5 linked regions of the Homo sapiens genome follow. The protein of the gene in region 5 purifies or fractionates together with the protein of the main gene of each other region. This does not show direct contact. Each region holds a gene or a part of one and is shown on either strand. Other genes may lie near its edges.

What was found.
Region 1: the proteins of TBX3 (region 5) and USP10 purify together in Homo sapiens (affinity purification with mass spectrometry, with the first as the bait; one large-scale study listed by BioGRID). This does not show direct contact.
Region 2: the proteins of TBX3 (region 5) and ANXA5 purify together in Homo sapiens (affinity purification with mass spectrometry; one study listed by BioGRID and IntAct). This does not show direct contact.
Region 3: the proteins of TBX3 (region 5) and TMPO purify together in Homo sapiens (affinity purification with mass spectrometry, with the first as the bait; one large-scale study listed by BioGRID). This does not show direct contact.
Region 4: the proteins of TBX3 (region 5) and SVIL purify together in Homo sapiens (affinity purification with mass spectrometry, with the first as the bait; one large-scale study listed by BioGRID). This does not show direct contact.

What each region holds. Positions count from the first base shown.
Region 1 is NC_000016.10:84,747,326-84,751,999, reverse strand, and holds part of USP10 (ubiquitin carboxyl-terminal hydrolase 10), read right to left. Parts: intron 1-4,674. UniProt on the Homo sapiens protein: Hydrolase that can remove conjugated ubiquitin from target proteins such as p53/TP53, RPS2/us5, RPS3/us3, RPS10/eS10, BECN1, SNX3 and CFTR.
Region 2 is NC_000004.12:121,675,997-121,680,670, reverse strand, and holds part of ANXA5 (annexin A5), read left to right. Parts: exon of another isoform or gene 1-2,176; coding exon 2,177-2,256; intron 2,257-2,720; coding exon 2,721-2,777; intron 2,778-4,674. UniProt on the Homo sapiens protein: This protein is an anticoagulant protein that acts as an indirect inhibitor of the thromboplastin-specific complex, which is involved in the blood coagulation cascade.
Region 3 is NC_000012.12:98,525,150-98,529,823, reverse strand, and holds part of TMPO (thymopoietin), read right to left. Parts: intron 1,939-4,674; coding exon 1,812-1,938; intron 1-1,811. UniProt on the Homo sapiens protein: May help direct the assembly of the nuclear lamina and thereby help maintain the structural organization of the nuclear envelope. Possible receptor for attachment of lamin filaments to the inner nuclear membrane.
Region 4 is NC_000010.11:29,459,737-29,464,410, forward strand, and holds part of SVIL (supervillin), read right to left. Parts: intron 3,900-4,674; coding exon 3,756-3,899; intron 2,666-3,755; coding exon 2,541-2,665; intron 1-2,540.
Region 5 is NC_000012.12:114,668,974-114,672,358, forward strand, and holds the end of TBX3 (T-box transcription factor TBX3), read right to left. Parts: intron 3,330-3,385; coding exon 2,868-3,329; 3' UTR 1,282-2,867; downstream 1-1,281.

The sequences.
Region 1 (4,674 bases), on a different chromosome or scaffold from region 5:
CAAGGGCTGCCACAAATCAGCCCACTGAAATTGTTTATCAACTCAAAGGCAATACCAGCATCGTAAACTTTTATGTCATCATAAGCTATGATTATTCTTACACATATTTTACACATCAAATTCTGTTTTCCTAAAATTAGGACTTAGGGGTCATATTAACATTGAAAATCCCTGAAAATGCAAGGTACAGAACTCTGATTCTTAGGGCTCAATAACTGGCCCGTAATCGACATTCTGGTGTTGTTGACCTGCTTTTCTGTCATCATTCTAACTGTCCAGAACATTCTCCAAGTGCTTTTCTTTTCCTCATTACCATCAATTTGGAAGAACACACACTATCTTGGTTATCTAACCAGGTGGAGGACAGCAAAGTGACCAAAATGTACCACTACCCATTGACTACAGATCAACTTATGTTTCTGAAGTGGAAAGATGTATAATAAATGTGAGGCTACAAACATCGAATCAGATGTGGACTAAACTCTCAGTCCACAAGGGTGGATCCCGGTAAACAGGTGCCACGCCTTTTTAACTTAGATCACGCCGCATGACCACTGCCTGTGTACTTCAGAGTTTGAAGAGGAAGTGCAAAATATCTGAGAAACCATTTCCCCCAAGGAGCGGGGGGAAATATATGCATGATTTATAAACTGCCAAAATAAAGATCAGTTTTAGGATACACAGCCATGCTTAATGATGGGGATATGTTCTGAGAAATGTGGCATTAGGCAATTTTGTCATTGTGGGATCACATGCCTAGATGGTATAGCCAACTACACACCTGGGCCATATGCTAGAGCCTATTGCTCCTAAGCTACAAACCCGTACAGCATGTTGTGTACTGAATACCGTAGGCAACTGTAACACAACTCACTGGTCACTAGAAATTGTTTAGCTCCATTATAATCTTATGGGACCACTGTCGTACATGCGGTCTGTTGTTGACTGAAACATCATTAAAGCAGCACATAACTGTATGTTCATTTACACTTAAATAAACACGGACAGGGTAATTCATTAGAGAAGACCCAAATTGTAATAACTTTGTTTCTTGATCCAATGCCTTTTAGGTATAAAACCACTGTGAAAAATCATATAAACAGGTTTTGACTAACAATTCATAATAAATGACATTGCTAGATACCTCAACGCAATGTTTTCAGAGCTGTTCAAGAGCTCAGTTTTCCTAGTTCTCTCTCACTGGAATTTTAACTTATCGGGCAGTTGGCCACTCTTCTTACCCAGCATTATTTATATTCTGTTAAAACAAAATATACTGTTGCATAATTTTGAAAGCAAAACATCAAATACAAAATGGCTCTATTTGTGATGTGAAAGCATCTGATACAATTTCGTCTAGTATATGAGGAATGTTCCTTAGTAAAGACCCAGGAAAAGTACAATGTTCAATGAAAGCATACGTTCAATTTCAAACGTCACATGTTCGTCAACTCCAAAGTATCTGTGCTAATGAGGGAAGCAGCAGCAAAGGCACTCCCCACGTGTCTGCCATACTCACTCTTAACAAGGGTGTCGCGTTTTGCAACTACTTTCAAACACAAGCTATTAAGTTTTGGGTTTTTTTTTTTTTTTTTGAGACAGTCTCACTCTGTGGCCCAGGCTGGAGTGCAGTGGCACGATCTGGGCTCACTGAACCTCCACCTCCCCGGTTCAAGCTATTCTCCTGACACAGCCTCCTCAGTAGCTAGGATTACAGCCATGAGCCACCACGTCCATCTAATTTTTTTATTTTTAGTAAAGATGGGATTTCCCTATGTTGGCCAGGCTGGTCTTGAACTCCTGGCCTCAAGGGATCCACCCACCTCAACCTCCGAAAGTGCTGGGATTACAGGCGTGAGCCACTGTGCCGGGCTGTATTAAGTTTCCTTTTGTTGACTCCTACTGATAAATGGCAACCATCTCCTCTCAGACCAGTCACTGAAACACAGATCCCTCTCCAACCCTCGGCAAGACAGGGCTTTTGTGTTTAGATACATCCTTCCCTTGGGGCTAAAGGAAATCACTGAGTATTCAGTTCACACGCTCTCCCCTGGCGTGTCCTTCTCCTTTCAAATAACAGTTCACACTTGAAAAACAGCCAATGGAACAAAATGTTGACACATAACCTACACCGAGGAGATGGCCTTGCCACCAAGAAGGTCCAAGTAGAACCCGTTAAAGTGGATAGTTTAAGAGTAATCAAGAGTTTAATGTATTTCACTTCAAAATCCCTTATACGTGATTCTTTTAGTCCATCTGCCTTCTTAATTTCACTTCTGATGGCATAAAAACTAGCTGGCATTTATTAAGCAGACTTAACAATAGGGGAAATAGTCCAGAAATGTGAGTATTTGAAACAAACTTGAGATAAAAAATACACAAATTATTCCAAGCATTTTGTGTGTGTATAATTTTTTTTTTTTTTAAAGATGGGGTCTCAGTATGTTGCCCAGGCTGGCCTCGAACTCCCGGGCTCAAGTTATCGAGCCTCAAGCCTCAATCTCCACACTATCATGCCTGGCAGAAAGGAATACATTTAATGTCTAAATCATTCCCTACTCCCTCTTTCCCAAAAGTTAATAACACAAATACCACTGTCTCAGTAGAAACAGTTAGATACTAATGCAAGTCAAACTCTATTATAACCCACATCAACAGATCTTTTAATGAAACTAGACTTTCACTCAGTTAAACGCTGCTTAAAATAAGTGGGCCTACACTTAAAAGTGTGCCCACTAAAGGGAATTTGTGGTAGTGGATCTGACTTGTAACAAACTGAGTATGTTTTACCACTTTTATAAAGTAAATCCCTAAGTAGGAGAATAAAACAACAAAAAAAATTTCAAACAATGCCATTCTCCCTAAGCCCTATATGATCCCAAGGGTTATTCAATGTGACTCTATTGCTCTACTATCTCACGAGACTCCTGAAACTGTCAACAACTACGTTCTGTCTATCGAAGCCTCAACAAACAGGCTGAAAAGAATTATATATTTTTAAAGAAACTACACTTTTGCTCAGAAAATTAAAACATCTTCATAACTGACCTAACCAAATAGGATTAAAAAAATAATCTGTTTGGTAGGGGTTTACAATATGTCCACACAAAAATAATTACGTGGACTGTGTGTGGCAAGGCTTTCCTCTACTACCAGTCATTAAGAGGCCCTTACTTTCAGTGTTTGACAAAGCTACTTCAATTAGACTTTAACATATACAGAACATAACAAACTATTTATCAAACTATATTTAAAGTCATATGACTAAGTAGAATGTTCTAAAACATTTTAAATGAAGCTTTTCTTGGTTATTTTAAATAAAGATAGAGAAAATCTCCCTAAGATGGGAGGTTTTCCTTTGTGGAGCAATTTTAGAAACGAAACTATAATATTCTCAGCTGGGCGCGGTGGCTCACGCCTGTAATCTCAGCACTTTGAGAGGCTGAGGCAGGAGGATCACTTGAGGTCAGGAGCTCAAGACCAGCCTGGCCAACATGGTGAAACTCGGTCTCTACTAAAAATACAAAAATTAGCCTGGCGTGGTGCCAGGCACCTGTAGTCCCAGCTACTAGGGAGGCTGAGGCAGGAGAATTGCCTGAACCCAGGAGGAGAAGGTTGCAGTGAGCCGAGATTGCGCCACTGCATTCCGGCCTGGGCGACAGAGTGAGACCCCCTCTCAAAAATAAAGAAAAGAAAATAAAATTCTCATGACTTCGAACTTAGAATGCACATTTTTAACAGGACCCCACCATGCATTTCTCATTATAGGTTAAAAATAAACTTTTAACTTAGTAATCTATATAAAGGCTTACACAATCTATCTTTTTTTTTTTTTTTTTTTTTTTTGAGATGGAGTCTGGCTCTGTCGCCCAGGCTGGAGTGCACTGGCGCCATCTCGGCTCACTGCAAGCTCCGCCTCCCAGGTTCACGCCATTCTCCTGTCTCAGCCTCCTGAGTAGCTGGGACTACAGGCGCCCGCCACCACGCCTGGCTGATTTTTAGGTTTTTTTTAGTAGAGACGGGGTTTCACCGTGTTAGCCAGGATGGTCTCGATCTCCTGACCTTGTCATCCACCTACAGTATCAGTCCTTGCAATAAATACATTCTGAAAGCTGTATTCAAGAAATCGCCTGGCCTGAGTGCGGTGGCCCACACCTGGAATCCCAACACTTTGGGAGGCTGAAGCGAGCAGATCACTTGAGGTCAGGAGTTTGAGGCCAGCCTGGGCAGCATGGTGAAACCCCATTTCTACTAAAAATACAAAAAAAGATAGCCAGACATTGTGGCATGTGCCTGTAATCCCAGCTACTTGGGAGGCCGAGGCAGGAGAATCACTTGAACCCAGGAGGCGGAGGTTGTAGTGAGCCAAGATCGTGCCTCCTGCACTACAGCCTGAGCAACAGAGTGAGACTGCATCTCAAAAAAAAAAAAAAAAAAAAAAAAAATCACCTGGCTTTAAAAAATATATATGAAGCCCAAAATAACGACGTCTGGCCTATCATTTGCTCATTTAAGAGAACTTCAGAACAACAAGAGTACCTGAGATAATGTATTTTGTATAAGGAATAAAATACTCTTAAAAATATATATACATTGCTTGCTATCACCCTATTGCCACCCAAAGAATGTGTTTTATTTTTTACACAATTCTGACCATCCATCGAAGGGTGTGCA
Region 2 (4,674 bases), on a different chromosome or scaffold from region 5:
GTGCTCAAAGGGGGTAATAACTGTGTGGTCTGTCCTACTCAGCCGTGTAATTGAGCACTGGCTATGTGTCTGGCAGTGTGTTAACAGGCTGTCATGAGTGACAAAAGGTGTGCATAACACAGCTCCTGTCCTCAAGCAGTTTGTGTGCAGTCTCCTCAGTGGGTGACATGACAGAATGACTGCAATATTTAAAGGATAATGAAATTCAAACTAAAGTAAAATACCAATGATGTTAAATGCAATAATGCATTCAGAAGAGAGAGGTCATCATAGCTTTGGATGTTAGGGAGGCTTCATGGTACAAATCACACATGCAGCAGAGTTTCAAGACTAGGTGGGTTTACAAAGTGTCCATTGACAGATGAATAGATAAAGAATACGTACACACACACACACAAACACAGACACACACACACAGGAGTACTGTTCAGTCTTAAAGAGGGGAAATCCTGTCATTTCAACATCATGGATAAACGTGGAGGACATAATGCAAAGTGAAATAAGCTAGGCACAAGGCATAAGCTATGCATGATCTCACTTCTTATGTTGAATCTAAAAAAATTGAACTCATAGAAACAGATAGTAAAACAGTGTTTGCTAGGGTGTAGGGGTGGGGTGAATGGGAGAAGGGACTGGTGAAATATTGGTCAAAGCATACACGATTTTAGTTAGGCAGGATGAATAAGTTCTGGGGATCTCATGAACAGCGTGGTGACTATAGTGAAAGTATAACTATTATATGCTTGAAATTTGTGAATACAGTATATTTTAAATGTCCTCACCACACACAAAAATATAGACTATATGAAGTGATGGATATGCTGATTAACTTGATTGTGGTAATCATTTCACAACGTACACATATATGAAAACATCATGGTGTATACCTTAAATATATACAATTTTTATTTGTCCATCATAACTCAATAAAGCTGGGAAAAAAAGACTAGGTGCATTTTGAGTAGGTAGAAAAGATATTTTTGGGTGAGGTACTGCCTGTCTTTAATGGCATGGAGACTGGACTGTGGAGAGTGTATTGAGGGACGGAGAGGGCCTGGCTGCTGTGGAGGATGTGTGCATGTCCATTGTGGGAGGTAAATGGAACAAGCGAGGTTAGGCTCAGATATAGATGGTTTTGCATGACTGGATTAGGAATTTGGACTTAATTCACAGGCACTGTAAATTCCTGAATGAGCAGTGGAGTGCTGAAGGAACAATTGAGGGAGGAAGGAGATTTGAATTGAGAGGCTAATTGGATAGTTATGTGTGTGGGAGGTAAGCTAGGTATTTAGGAATTGTGGCCCAACCTAGGTGAGTGAGAGGTGTGAGGAGGATAAATCAGGGACAGGAGAAACGTGATAGGATTTAATGGTTAATATTTACAGGTGTTGGTGTAGAAGAAAGAATTAAAGATTCCTACAAGGTTTTGTATTTGGGTAACTTGTTGAAATAAACATGTAACTCTTCTGGGCCTTTTAAAATAGAAGTTTCAGGCTTTTAAAGTTCGTTTGCTTTTGCATAATAATTAAATATTTAAATACCTTAGAGTAAGGCCTCCTTTCCTTTAATAGCATCTGTTTGAGAGTAGTGAGAAAGACTTGTAGACTCTTGTAGATCCCAGTTCTCCCCTTTTATATGGGCTTACATTGAGCAGCTGGAAATAGAGGTGGGAGGGGGGCCTACTTTAAAATATCATTGCTGTCTCTCAAGAGTTAACTTTATTTCTGCAGAGGAAAAATACCTTATTAGGAGTGATGGCCATGCCCAAAGAAATAAATCTCAGAATATTAGAGATAGAAGACATTTGGAAGCTAACCATATAAAAGATTTGAAAGAAAGCAAAACAGAGTTTAAGCTTATGATTGATTGTGTTTTGGAGACTTTCCAGTACCATCATGTATCTATAGATTAATGACTACATTGGTCGAGAGAATTTCTAAATGGCTGAGTCTTGATTTAAGTTTGAATTGAGTGCCTTTGGGAGACTTTAATTCATTTTTGTCCAACCACTCACTGAAAGCATTTGCTTAGAGCATTCAGAGATGGAATAGAGGGAATTTATGTTAACCAAATATAATTATTTCTTCTTTTACATCGCTTTCATTTGATTAATGGGGCAAGATTACTTTTCTAGTTGAAAGAAGATGTAAATAAGTATGAAATTATTTTGTTGCAGAATATGGCTCAAGCCTGGAAGATGACGTGGTGGGGGACACTTCAGGGTACTACCAGCGGATGTTGGTGGTTCTCCTTCAGGTATTGCGTGGAGATTAATTACAGTTTGATTAAAAAGCCTGAAGTTGGACTGGGCTGAATCTAGTTAAGTAAGGTCACTTAAAATTCTTTTAATAATTTGTGGTACTTGCTGATTCTTACTGCGATGATTCTGACTGTATGTTGCCTGTGCTTGTTTGTGTTTCAGAATATCTGGTCTAAATTCTTAACAGCTAACTCATACATGTTTTAGATAGTAGTATCTTGTTCCTTTCATAGAATGATAGCGGTATCTTGTTCTTTCATAGAATTTAAAATCAGTAGGGTCATTATTGGTTTTGGACAGTGCTGGGTGATGATAACGTGAAATAGTGCAGGATTGATCTTAATAAAAGCATATTATTCCTAGAGAAAGAGTGTTATTGAATAACCATCAGGTGGAACCATTTTTCCTTTTGAATGAGAATGCTCTATAGTTCAGTAATGTGACATATTACCTCTCATAGGCTAACAGAGACCCTGATGCTGGAATTGATGAAGCTCAAGTTGAACAAGATGCTCAGGTGAGTGACACCAGGATATGATGACTTTATTATGCTGTAGAAATGAAGAAATAATTCATGGTAATGAAAAATCACAATGTATGTTGTAATAGCTTCTAGTGATAATCTTGTTAATGGGTTATTTACATAGCATAAGACCTACATAAGTAGCTTTTTCTTATTCTGACCTGGTCAGCAAAATATTTTACCTTAAAGCTGAAACGAAATAAAATAAATTATATAGTGAGTTCCAACTAGACATGTTTTTTTTTGTGATTATTGAACATTCACAAAATAGAGAATTTTACCAAAAAACAGTGTTATTACTTCCACTGCCAATTATGCAGTGGGTCTCTTAGCAGGAGAAGATAAAGAAGAAAGAATAAAGTATTTAACAGTAAGTGGTGTTTAATTACATAAGAGATGACAAGTTATTTTGGTATTAGGAAATTTCTCTGCATTTCCTTCGACAGAATTTTAAGTAGGATTGGTCTTCTGTCAGCAGCTTTTTAGTGACTCCAAATGAAAATTTCCTCTTAAGTGACTTATAAACCCCTATAAAGTCTCAGTCTGGTTAATAAAACAGTTATTAAAATATAGGAAAGGAAATTTGAAACATGAGAGCTGAAAACTGGAAATTGGTAATAAAGGAATTACTTGGGTTCCTAGAACCACCAATCATAGACCTCTTTCTGGTCACATGTTTCAATTAAGAGAATATACAATTCTTGGTTGTTTGTCATGTATCATTGAAAAAGGAAGAGCCATATTCATTCCTCCAGTGGAACAACCCATGGATATGCGATCTCACTTTGCTAACAGGAAAGAGGAGAGCGGTTATTCTTTTGGGTAGGTTGATTTTATAATGGTTTCAGAATGCTGTCATCTCTGTCTAGCTGGAGAGAAAAAAAGAACTGAATGTTTACCGAGGGCTCTCTGTGCAGTATTTGACTCTTGCTTCACTCTGTCTTAGAAAATGCAAGCCAATTGTGTCCAGCCCCTTCAGACTCTGGTGGTTCCATTGCCCTCAGGATAAAGTCCGGGTTCCTGAATGGGTTACAAGCCCCTTTGTTATCTGTGTGTTGTTTACTTATGCCTCCAGCCTCTCTCACATGCTCTCTCTGCCCTCTTGCCCCTCCCACCCCGCTTCACCTGAGTCCTCTTCAAGAGTCAGTCTTCAGCTTAGATACTTTAGAGTTAGGTGCCCCTCACAGGGAAAACCATACCCCCCCCCGCCCCCAGGCTTCCTGTCACAGTTCTTGCCACGTTCTCTGGAAGCCATCTATTTACTTCACTGCCTTCCTGGGCCCCCTGAGCTGTCAGTTCAATTGTATCCTCAGCTTCTGGCATAGAGTAGGTGCTCAGTAAATAACTGATGAATGAATGAGCACATAACTCTACCAGAAAGGGGCAATTTCCCTTTTATGGATAAAGAAACAAACCCATGGCTTCCACTGAATAGCAGTGGAGTTGGAATTCCTAACGAGGCCTGTCTGACTCCAAAGCTCTTTCTCTTTCACTAGAAGATAGTCAGTGTTATTGAATATTAATATTTCACTATAAGAATATTTCACTGTAAGATATTCAGTGTTCTTGAGTATTAGTGCCTTCCCTGATTTTCTCTATCATTAAAGGGCTTATTAAATATCAACTCAAGCATAGATCTAGCTTAATTCCACCTTCTTTCGGGAAGAGGGCTAGAGCAACCCTACAGAGTTGTACTCCTGTTAGGGGCTTTGTTCAGTACTGAGGTGATCTTACTGCTTTCCAAGCATTGGTTGTGGCTTTGCTAGGAGATAGTGCTGATTCTCTCATTCCTACTGTCAAGAGTAGGATAGGAGTTCTGGGAGCTTTTCAGGGTCACAGTGTAAGAAACCAACTCTAGTCCTCTCAGATGTCTGCAGTGAGGCCTGCATTC
Region 3 (4,674 bases), about 16 Mb from region 5:
ACTTAGGGAGGCCTAAGTGGGAGGACTGCTTGAGCCCAGGAGTTCAAGACCACCCTGGGCAATATAGTGTGCCCCCATCCCTACAAAAACTACAAAAATTAGCCGGGAATGGTGGCACGTGCCTGTGTTCCCAGCTACTTGAGAGGCTGAGGTGGGACTGCTTGAGCCTAAGCTGAGGCTGCAGTAAGCCATGACTGTGCCACTGCACTCCAGCGTGGACAACAGAGCAAAGACCTTGTCAAAAAAAAAAATAATAATAAAATGGAATTTTCTCATCTTGAGGTTATTGCTAAGACCCTCCAAAACTAAGGCATAATCAACACTGCAAAATCTTCATCACCTAAAAGTAATCCAACGATGGAAATCCAGTGTATTTAGTCCTAGGTTTTTGTTTTTTAAGGGTATAATTCCTCAATTCCAATCAAGATAGGACTTTCAAAAGGGTACTTTTAATGATAAATGAAAAAGGGGCTCAGCGCGGTGGCTCACACCTGTAATCCCAGCACTTTGGGAGCCTGAGGTGGGTGGGATCACCTGAGGTCGGGAGTTTCAGACCAGCCTGGCCAACATGGCAAAACCCCATCTCTACTAAAAATATAAAAATTAGCCGGGCATGGTGGCAGGTGCCTGTAATCCCAGCTATTCGGGAAGCTGAGGCTGGAGAACTGCTTGAACCTGGGAGGCAGAGGTTGCAGTGAGCCAAGATCACACCATTGTACTCTAGCCTGGGCAACAAGAGCGAAACCCCGTCTCAAAAAAAAAAAAAAAATAGGGTACTAGGCTAGGAATTTAATAACTTCATTAAGAAGAAGTCTGTCACTAACTCACTTTTTCTTTTTCCCTTATTTATTTATTTTTTTTGAGACAGGGTCTTGCTCCACTGCCCCTGGCTGAAGTACAGTAGCCATCACGGCTCACTGCAACTTTGACTTCCCCCCACCATCTCAAGCAATCCTCCTGCCTCAGCCTCCTAAGTAGCTGGGACAATAGATTTGTGACACCACACCCTGCTAATTTTAAAATTTTCTGCAGAGATGGGATCTCCCTATGTTGCTCATGCTGTTCTTCAACTCCTGGGCACAAGCAATCCTCCCATCTTGGCCTCCCAAAGTGTTGGGATTACAGGTGTGAGCTACTGCGCCCGGCCATTAACTCATTTATTTGGGCAAATTTGCCCAGCTATGTTACCTCAGATTTTCCTCAATTGTCATACAAGACCCACGTCTCAGCAGAAGTACGATATAAGTGGCCAGGCACGGTGGCTCACACCTGTAATCCCAGCACTTTGGGAGGCCGAGGCAGGCGGATCACAAGGTCAGAAGATCGAGACCATCCTTGCTAACACGGTGAAATCCCATCTCTACTGAAAAATACAAAAAATTAGCCAGGCGTGGCAGCGGGCGCCTGTAGTCCCAGCTACTCAGGAGGCTGAGGCAGGAGAATGGCATGAACCCGGGAGGCAGAGCTTGCAGGGAGCCGAGATCGCGTCACTGCACTACAGCCTGGGCGACAGAGCAAGACTCCGTCTCAAAAAAACAAAAAACAAAACAAAACCAAAAAAAAAAAAAAAAAGTACGATATAAGCACCATATAAAACAATCTCAACAATAGAGGTAATTTTGGAGATTATCTAATTCAATCCTCTCATTTTATTTCACTCATTTACAGTCAAAGAAACACAGGTTCTGCTGATAACAAATGATTAATGACAAACCAGTCCTTGGAACCTAAACTGCTAAACAAAAAGGAGAAAATAATTTGGGGTCCTGCTTCAGAGAAAAGATACTGTATTTGAAATTTTATCAACTTACCCACAATAGGACCAGGATTCACTCCGTATTTCACAAGCTGATCCAAAAGATCTTCATTAGTGAGCTCTGTTACATCTAGATCATCTTTATCTTCTTGTCTGGGTTTATCAGTTTTTTTTGTGGCTTTCTGTAAACAAAGTCCAGTAATCATTTCCATATGAATTAAAGTGTTCACTTACTAGATAATAACCTGTATAACATAAACATGCAAACTCACTACCAAATTGGTTTATAGTAATATTAGGCCTTAGCAATTCCATTAAATTAAGAGCAACTCATTATTGGAGAACACTTTCTAAGTTGAACTGTAATCATACAAACCGCACAGCCAAGCAAGTAACTTAAAGACATTGTTGTTAAAATAGTCCATTTTGGATTACCTATCTAAAAGAGATAGTAATGGCATCAAAAATGCAAAAGAGCAACTAAAAGTAAAACTGACTTTGGGTAACATTTTCTTTTAAATAACCTTTTTTTTTTTTTTTTTAATGATACAGGGTCTAGCTATGTCACCCGGGCTGGAGTACAGTGGCTCCATCTCAGTTCACTGCAACCCCCACCTCCCAGGCTGAAGCGATCCTCCCACCTCAGTCTCCCAAATAGCTGGGACTACAGGTGCGCACCACCACCCTTGGCTTTTTGCCTGTGGTTTTTTTTTTTTGTTTTTTTTTTTTTTTGTAGAGATGGGGTTTTTGCCATGTTGCCCAGGCTGGTCTCAAACTCCTGGACTCAAGTGATCAGCCCACCTTGGCCTCCCAAAGTGTTAGGATTACAGTTGTAAACCACTGCACACAGCCTAAATAACCAAAAATTATATTTCATTTCTTAAAGCATATAACTCCAATGGCAACGGAAACAGATCAGCATGAACCATGGAAAGTAAAGCCAGACTGGGCTTAACATTTTTCATCTAAATGATCATGAATGCTACTTACTAACTTTTTGATAATCCTTAAAAATTTAAATTAATCCAGGAAAGTTTAAGACTTTACCATACAGGCTTACACTTAGATACATATATAGAAATGATTTTCTTTTCTTTTTCTTTTTTTTTTGGAGGTGGAGTCTCGCTCTGTTGCCAGGCTGGAGCGCAGCGGTGCAATCTTGGCTCACTGCAACCTCCGACTCCCGGGTTCAAGCGATTCTCCTGCCTCAGCCTCCCGAGTAGCTGAGAGTACAGGTGTGCGCCACCACGCCCAGCTAATTTTTGTACTTTTAGTAGAGACGGGGTTTCAACATGTTGGCCAGAATGGTCTCGATCTCTTGACCTCGTTATCTGCCCACCTCAGCCTCCCAAAGTGCTGGGATTACAGGCATGAGCCACTGCGCCCGGCCAGAAATGATTTTCTTTAAACAGCATATGAGAACTTAAGAAGGCCAAATGAATACAGTTGGCTCTCCATTCTCCCAAATGAATACAGTTGGGTTCTACATATGTGAATTCAACCAACCACAGATCAAAAATACTTGGGGAAAAAAAAGACAATACGACAATAAAAACACTAACAAAAATACAGTATAACAACTATTTACATAGCACTTACATTGTATTAGGCGTTATAAGTAATCTAGAGATGATCTGAAGTATAAGGGAGGATGTGTGTAGGTTACTACACCACTTTATATTAAGGGACTTACTAAAGCATCCCCAGAGTTTGATATCCATGGCCGGGTCCTGGAACCAATCTCCACCCCAAGGATAGGAGACAGGACTGTAAACTCCTTGTAACACAGTTATTTTAGTAGCTAGTTTATGACTTAGGAAGGAAATCTGACAGACTTCATGGTTAAATTATCACCTGTGACACAGTTTAGTCACCAGATTAACTTCTGTACCACCAGTTTACTAAAAATAGTCAAAATAACTTGAAACAAACTTTGAGGGAAAATTTGAAAGTTTTAAAATTAATTTCTACAAAGGCAGTATTTACTGGAAAAACTATAAATTTCCAAGGTTGAACAAATAAAAAGGAAGCAAAAGTACGGATACCTTTTAAGGCTGTGGCAAACAGCCTGACAAATGCCTCAGTGATCACAGAAAAAACATCAGAGTACTGAACAAAAAAATGGCTAATTAAACAATGGCAACATCAAAGTAAATTTTACGAAAAAGGCTAAAATTATCAAGTTGTATGGAATGCTCACTTTCCAATAATATTAGGGGGAAAAATCAGTCATGATTTGACTATGTACTGGAATTACTGTTTTTAACAATAAAAATGTTCTGACCTAGAATTGTCAGGCTCAAATCAAATCTTTTTTTTTTTTTTTTTTGAGACTGTGCCTCACTCTTATCCAGGCTGGAGTGCAGTGGCGCAATCTTGGCTCACTGCAACCTCTGCATCCAAGGTCCAAGTGATTCTCCTGCCTCAGCCTCCTGAGTAGCTGGGATTACAGGTGTGCACCACCACGCCCGGCTAATTTTTGTATTTTTAGTAGAGACGGGGTTTCAGCATGTTGGCCAGGCTGGTCTTGAACTCCTGACCCCAAATGTTATGCCCGCCTGAGCCTCCCAAAGTCCTAGGATTACGGGCGTGAGCCATGGAACCTGGCCTGAAATACTTCAAATAAAGCAAGATATGAGAAATTCTTTTTAAAAAGCTGCTAATGGCTAATCATTCTATAATCAGAAGCCAAAAAACCTTCACCAAAAAAATAGCTGCTCATAAGAACAATTATGTCAACTTACGAGAAATCTTAAATAGACGGCTGTGGAGAGTTACAGTGAGAGTACTTTTAGCAGGCTTTAATTCACATACATTGCACTGACCTAGAACTGTCAGGCTCATATCTGGAAGCAACCCACACCATAATATCCAAATAGTTGCCTAGGGTCTAAGAGTTCTAAGACTTATTTCTTTCA
Region 4 (4,674 bases), on a different chromosome or scaffold from region 5:
AATGCATGACTAAGAGCTGTTGCTCATATTAGAAATACATGGAACAGACTGGTGGTCAAGAGGCAGGTTTTGGGCTGGGTGCAGTGACTTGTGCCTGTAATCTCAACACTGTAGGAGGCTGAGGTGGGAAGAGTCCTTGAATCCAGGAGTTGGAGACCAGCTTGGGCAATATGATGAGACCCTGTCTCTATAAAGAATACAAAAATAGGCTAGGCATGGAAGTGTGCACCTGTAGTCCTACCTACTTGGGGTGGCTGAGGTGGTAGGGTCGTTTGAGCCCAGGGGTTCAAGGTTTGTGTGAGCCATGATTGAGTCACCACACTGCAGCCTGGGTGACAAAGCAAGATCCTTTCTCTAAAAAAAGAAGAGGCGAATTTTGGATGATCTTGCCTGCGTCTGAGTACTGACTCCTCCACTCACTGAAAGTCACTTTGGCCAAGTGACTTCGTGTTTTTGTGTCTCTGCTCCCACACCAGTAAAATGGGAATAATAATAAGATATCTTGATGGACTGTTGTGATAAATGAGAAAATCAGTGTAAAGTGCTTGGAGATGTGCCTAGTGCAGAGTGGGCACTTGCTGAATGTTAATTATTTGTATAACTTGCTGGTGTGGGAAGCCTGACTCTTCTCCGGCTGGAATCCCACAGGCCTGCACAACAGTAAATGGCCCCGCTGCTAACCCCCAAGATCTATAGTGAATACACAGGGAGGATGGTGAGTTATATCCTTCTGAAAGTGGCTCAACTGTGCCACAGAACTGATGTTTATGATTTCTTTGGAATAAACGTCGAAATTAACTCTCCTAGTCTTGAAATTCGAGAAAGTTATATTTGTCTTATCTGAGTTCCTTTCTCAGGAAACCAACCATCAGGCATCTCCAATAGTATCAAAAAGCCAGCAGTGGCTCATGCTTGTAATCCCAGCACTTTGAGAGGCTGAGGTGGGCAGATGGCTTGAGCTCAGGAGTTCAAGACCAGACTGAGAGACATGGCAAAACCTCATTGAAAATACAAAACAAATTAGCCAGGCATTATGGTGTGTGCTTGTAGTCCCAGCTACCTGGGAGGCTGATGTGGGAGGATTGTCTGAGCCTGGAGCTGGAGGCTGCAGTGAGCTGTGATTACACCACTGCACTCCAGCCTGGGCAACAGAGCAAGACCCTGTCTCAAAAAACAAAAACAAAACCTGAAGCTTACCAGACCCCTTACCCACCATGATGCCTAACCAACCCCCCGCTTCCTGTTGACCAGCTCCTCTTCCTCACCCCTCCCTAATTCCTGTTTCCCACACATGGTTACATTTCTTCCCTGCTATAAAAATCCCTAATTTTAGTAGGCCAGAGACACAGATTTGAGACTTATGTCCTGTTCCCCTTGGCTGTAGCACCCAAATAAACTTTCTTCCTTGGCTATGCTTGTCTCAGTGATTGGCTTTCTTCTGTGTAGTGAGCAATAAGCCCTGGACTGAACCCCTGGCAATTTGGTAACTCCTGAACTTAGACTGCATGCAGCAGCCATAGAGCTCGTAATCCCTAGAGCCTTCTGGTTTCACGAAACCACAGTTGCAGTGAACAGAAACATCTCGTTCCGGCTGCGGCAGACACCAAGCTGAAGTCAGCCCCTTCCCTGTGTACATCAAGTCCATTTGGCTCCAGGGAGACAGGTTAGGGTGAGCAGTGATGTCTGTACTACCCAACAGGCCCTCTCCATTGCTAAGCAGAAGTAGATTCTGTTTGTTTAAAATTACTCGAATTTCCTATAAAATACACTTGGGTCGTTTCCCCAAGCAAAGCAGCTCTCACATGGTAAAAAAAAATCAAAATGGTAAAAAACCTATCTCTCACCAAATCAAAACAAATCCTTGGATTTGCTATTCCTAGCAATGTTAATAGCTCATATATAAGAAATTCAACATAGCTATAATAAAATTCTTTCCTGTGTGGTTGGAAAAGAAAACATTCTAGATTATAATATATTTTGGTGGATAGAAGTTATGATAAATGCCTCATGCAGAAATACCAGGTGGTCTCATAAAAGACAATATTAATGAGATGTTGAGTGATCCCTTATCATAAGGGAGTCGCAGCACCTCCATTCATTCAGTTTTCTGAACATACTAATTCATCAGATTTCGTTTGTGTCTCCTCTACACAAGGTTAACATCTGAAACATGAGGGTTTGGTTGTGCGTCACATGGACACTGAGAGACAAGCAATGCCAAGCAACAGGTTCTTAGCAAACAGAATGAAGAGTTCGCAGCTTTTATGTACATATATAGTCCTCAACATGATTCAACTCACCTTTGCTTTTAAGTTTTTAAAATTTGGGTATCGTGTAGAAAATTACTAAAATAGTTAATTGATTTTCCATTAGACTTCTCTTCTTCCTAAGCAAATTCTATGTAGGTTTGTTAAGATGTTGCAAAAGGAAAAATATTTTCCCACTCTGAAAGTGCAATTGGATGCTCTCCCCAAAGTAAAGTTAACCCACAATCCAAAAGGCGCAGGAGCCACCTTCATAGGGCAGGAAAGCGTGCTCACCATCTCTGTGATCTCAGCGATGTCCTCTCTGTGCTCCCAGCTGGGAAACATATTGGTGAATGTCAGGGGCTCCAGACCAGCGTGGATAAGGTAAGACTTGGGGGCTGGTTTCTTGAGATTTTTTCCTGTAGTTACACAGATTGCAATGTCAGTAGACCCCAGGGAGACCCTGTCTTTCTCTGATTTCCCTTGAAATCTTTTCTTCTTTGCCAGAACTCATGACTTCATGCTTAAAATGCAAGTTACCAGTAGTTCATAACAACACATGGATAATGTTTATATAAGATGTTTGTTAGTTTCATGCCTGTGACTACCATAGTGACCTATAATCAACCTGAGTCTATACTTCTTGAACCTAACAAAACGCTGTGTATTCCTGGAAGGGAGAGAGAGGCTCTGTCTGCAGCTTCTGGGTGGAGCATTTTCTTCCTCCTGAATTCACCTGTAGAGTCATCCGTCTCATTTCCTAGCACAGGATTAACTCCCATAATGACTGACGGCGAACGACAGCATCTTATACATCCACATTCACTATAACATTGAGTGGAAGGTTTCATATGTTATTTATTGCTAAAGAGTTTTTCAGGAAGAGAATCCATTGCACATACTCAGTGACATTAAACTAGTTGTGTCAATGAAACCATAAAAATTAAATAAGATTAATTACTGGCATTTTCATTTTATATAAAAGACTAGAAATTTCATGTGTATAGTAAAGAACCATGAACTTACTATGGGTATTTCTCTTTGGATATAATACTAAAAATAATAATGAATAATAAAAAGGTTGGCAATGGCCGTTCACTGTTTGGGGGAGACCTCCATTCTCCAACAGCGTGGTAGTGCTTGCAGATAATGTACAGGGCAGAGGCCAACTTGTCTCTCAGCATGATCAACCCCGAGTACAGCGGGGTTTTAATCTGCCTGGGGCATTCCACAATACAGCCTTTATCCTTGAGGGTAACAAGTTAGCCTCATAATATCAGAGAGAAAAACTAGTTCTTCTTCATGCTGGCAGCTGAGAATGCGCTAATCTAAAACTTAATACATCTCAAAAAGTTAAAGGGGAAAAAATTGGTTTCATCACCACCTGCCAGGCTTTATGGATGGATGCTGGCTGACATGCACAGAAGGGGAAGGGGGTCTCCTGGCTGCGCATGCCTGAGGGGCTTCCCCATCTGTTCCGTGCTGCAGGCATGTTAGAGGGAGCCTCACCTTTGCAGTACTGGAGCACAGTCTCCATCGCACTCTTCCGGTCGGAGGCCCAGCGGATGCGGGCGGAACCAGTGATCTTGTTCTCGATGGGCCACCAGCCTTGCCAGAGGTACACCTCGTGGTGATTGTCAACAAGGAAAAGTGCTGTGAGGGCAGGGACAGGGCCAGACCATCAGGAGCTCCTTCACGGACACTTCTAGCTCACTCCTCCCCCAACCTAGTGGATGTTGTCCCTCTTGACTGCAGTGTCACAGGGGGAAACCCCCTTGGCCATCAAACCAGGGGCAAAGGGGCAAACAGAGAAACCCAGGATACCCCAGCCCTTTGACAGTTCAACGGGGAGAAGCCTGTAGGCAGAGAGAAGTGGTGTCAAGGAGTTGGTCTTTTTCATTCCTCGTCCTCCAGGTCCTCCTCCCTTTGCCCCAGCTCAAGGCCCTGGCCCTTCTGGATACTGGCAGGGCTGTGCTAAGAGTGGAAGGGATAATGCATGTGCCACTCAAGGGGCTGTTAGCACCGCATATCTCCAAAGAGCACAATCAACACTGGAGCGCACATCTCACTGCAGACAGGTCAGTGGCGTTCCTGCCCTGCACGCGATTGCTTAGCAGTGAGGTGAGCTCATGGCTCTCTTACAGAGAAATGGGCCTTAAAAAGCAAAACTGCCACCGGGAGTGGTGGCTCATGCCTGTAATCCCAGTGCTTTGGGAGGCTGAGGAGGAAGGACTGCTTGAGCCCGGAGGTTGAAGACCAGCCTGGGCCACATGATGAGACCCTATCTCTACAAAAAGAAAAAAAAAATTAGCGAGGCATGGTGCTGCATGCATGTAGTCTCCACTACTCAGGAAGCTAAGGAGAGAGGATCGCTTGAGCCCAAGAGTTAGAGGCTGCAGTGAGCCATGACTGCGCCACTGCACTCCAG
Region 5 (3,385 bases):
GTCCCCACGTGCCTGGCCAGAGATGGAAGGGGCTTTGCCCCGCTCTCCAAAAGGTCTCGACCTCGATCCCTTCCAAGTACAGGATGAGGGAAGGGAGGGGGCGTCCTCCTCTCCGGTCATTCAAGAGGCCTGAAGGTGACAGGGACTTGGGGCCGGGCTGGCGGGCTCCAGGGGGTGGCGGGTGGGGGGTGGGGAGGGAGGCAGCCGCCAGGCAGGCTCCAGCTGGGTCTTCACGTCATGGCCCCCAGGGCAAGAAAAGGGCTAAGGACTAACCCTCGAACCTTCCCGTGCCGCCCCCGCCCCCCAACAGACACACACCTCGGAGGCGAGGCTGGGGGTCGGGAGACCAAAAGACTGACAGTGCCTCATCATTTTTTATTGAATGTTTCAAAGATAAATTGAACTTCAAAAGGCAACTCCCCGAACAGCCTGGAGACGGGTTTGAAGGGGAGACTAGGGGAGGATGTCAGCCTCCTGGGTGACTTTTGCCGTGGAGGGGGTGAAATGTGCACCCTGGAATTACCTTTCCCCTTTCGGGGATAATTTCCCTCCTCCCTCGCGTGACACAGCTAAGTTTTCGCGGAGCTGGCCGCGCTTTGCACGCACAACTCGGGATGGATGGGGCCTCGTAGGGGCGCCTTGGGCCAGCCGGGTTCAATTTGAGGCACCAGGGACTGCAGGCTGTGTGGGGGGTTGCCGAGTGGAAAGGCGTTGCGTCTTGTCCACTTCTACAACCTGGAGGGTTGCTGCCTAGCCAAGCCCGCTCGGACTGCTGGGGCATTCTGCTGGCCTTTTCCCCGAGCCAAACACACTGGTGCAAGAAGGTATTTTCGACTTGGATTCGCCAGATTGATGTCAAAACTGAGGGCGAGCTTAAAACGAAAAACATTCGTACTTGCCGAGCTTACTTTTGGTCGGATTCGGGTGGGAAAACCTGACTTAGGGAGCACATCAGTCTTTTTCCATTAAAACTTAAAAGTATCTGAAATTACCCTTCTTTCTGTATTCTCATCAGGCCCCTTTCCGTCTCCCTGCTTTGCTCCCTAATTTAAAGGAAAAGTAATTTCAGATTGAAGTGGCTCCCTTCGCTCAAGTAAGGGACTTTTGTTTTTAGCTTTGTAACTTGAGTGACATCTCATTTTGGTTCGCTGGGGGCGGTCTTAATTATTTAAAGGCGAAGGGAAGGGGGTAAACTCAGAACAAGAAGATACTAAACCCTCCCCTGACTGTCCATCTTCAGGAAAGGTTCCCAAAGAAAAAACATTTAACACAAGGCCCAAAGACATTTCAATAAAAATTTATTGAAATTTCAGTGATGTTTTAAAGAGAGGGGGAAAAATACAGAAAACCAAAGAACTCATCAACAACTATAACACAAAATATACCTTCATGAATTTGTCTTTAAACCATCTCTCAGCACCTGACTTTTGAACTGTGAATATATCTCTATAGGCAGGCACCAATTCAAAACACCGATACTGACAACAGTAGTAAATTCCACTTCGTTTTGAGGAAATCAGAGACTAGCAAATACAAATAACAAAAGAAAAATTAAAAAGTCAAACCGCAGCCTCTGCCCTCCTCCCTCCCCACAGCAATCTCAGTTATATTTTAAGGAATTTGAAGTGGAGCTGGAAAGTGGCACTCCTTCCCCAATTTTGGTGAAAATAGGAAATAGCACTTTCCCCCACTTTTGGACATTAAAAAAGAAAACAAAAATGTTGCAGACAACTCTTTTGAAAGGGTATTGGTGTTGGTGCAGGAAGTGTGTTTTCTAGTGTTAACAGCAATTCTGTGACCTGGAAATAAACCCAACTAAAGGAAAACAAGAACACAAAACCTGACAGTTGCAATTCTATTTACACAGAGCTATGTACAATGTCAATAAATTAAAGTTTAATTTTCCAAGCATTCATATTCCACCTATTTACAAGAGTTATCAAATAATTACATAAATACTTTGTCTAATAGTCTCACTTCTTTATTATTTTTTTAAAACCTTGTTATTGCATATACAGGAAAGAGAAAGAACTGTCAAAGAACGACATGAATCCTGCTACAGAGCTTAGATATAATAAATTCATTTTATGTGTTTTGCCCACTCCTTCCCTTTAAATCCCCCCCTCCCTTGGGTCACTGATTTGAGGGCAAAGGATTGGGAAAAGGGTAGGGGGCTATATTGTTTTCTCTCTAAAAGCAAGCGTTCAAAATAAAAACCACAAATACATTACTGTGGACATGCAAGAAGAGACCTACAGCGGCTCTGAAAACATCACAAGAATATTAAAAAGACACAGATTTTCTTAATATAGACTAAACAAGGATGGTAGGGACTTCCCTCCCCAAACAAAGCTGCTCAGTAATTTATTGAGAACCGATAATGCAAGTCCCTATAAAGTTTTTAATCTGCACAAACAGAATCATGTTAATGTGTTCACTTGTCCCGATTTTTTTTTTGAAAGATTTTGTTTTTGTTTCCACTTGACACAGTGAAGGAAAAATATATATATAAATCCGCACTGAGGGAGATGTCTTTGAACACCTCCCCGCCTGGTGGGCAGAGACCCAGACCAGCCTTGCTGGAAGTTGCTCTGGACATAAATGTTGGAACTCCTACCCCCAGTAGCTCAATGCAACCGACGTTTCTGAGCCCCCAGAATCTGATCCAGATCCCGGACATATAAACCACGCCAAGAAGACAGGGGCTGTCTCTAGCACATTCTCTCGAGGGAGTCCGGGGCCCCTTCCCAGACGCAACTGCAAAAGGAAGGGCTAACGCCATGGCGGGCCCGTGGTTTATTTTATATCCGACAAAGTGCACGGCAGCCTGAACTGGACTGGAATGAAAAGACGTGTCTGGGACGGGTCTACGGGGACGCGCTGCGGGACCTGTCCGGCTTGGCTTCCAAGCCGCTAACCAACCGCTGGATGCTCTGCAGTTCGCTGGTGGCCGCCTCTTTCTCCGCGCAGAGTTTGGGCGACAAGGACATGGAGCTGGAGGAGAGCGTGGAGGAGCGGCTGTTGAGTTCAGAGCCCGAGTCCACTGCCACCGAGGCCGGGCTGGCGGCCAGGGCGGCGACTTTGCCGTCCAGGGGCCCCGCGGCCGCCGCCATGGAGGGCAGGGCGGTGGTGAGCAGACTGCTGCCGTCCGGGACCGGCACCGGGATGGAGTAGGGGCTGTAGCGCAGCCGCGGGCGCATGGTGTTCAGATTGAGGAAGGGGTGGCGGTGCACCGAGCTGGAGGCTGCCGCAGAGGAGGCGGCCGCCGCTGCGGCCATGTACGTGTAGGGGTAAGGGAACAGGCTTCCGAAAGGGGACATGGCCAGGCCCTGGGGTGAGAAAAGAGACACACAGCGAGTCAGCCGGGTGGGAGGAGCTTATCTCA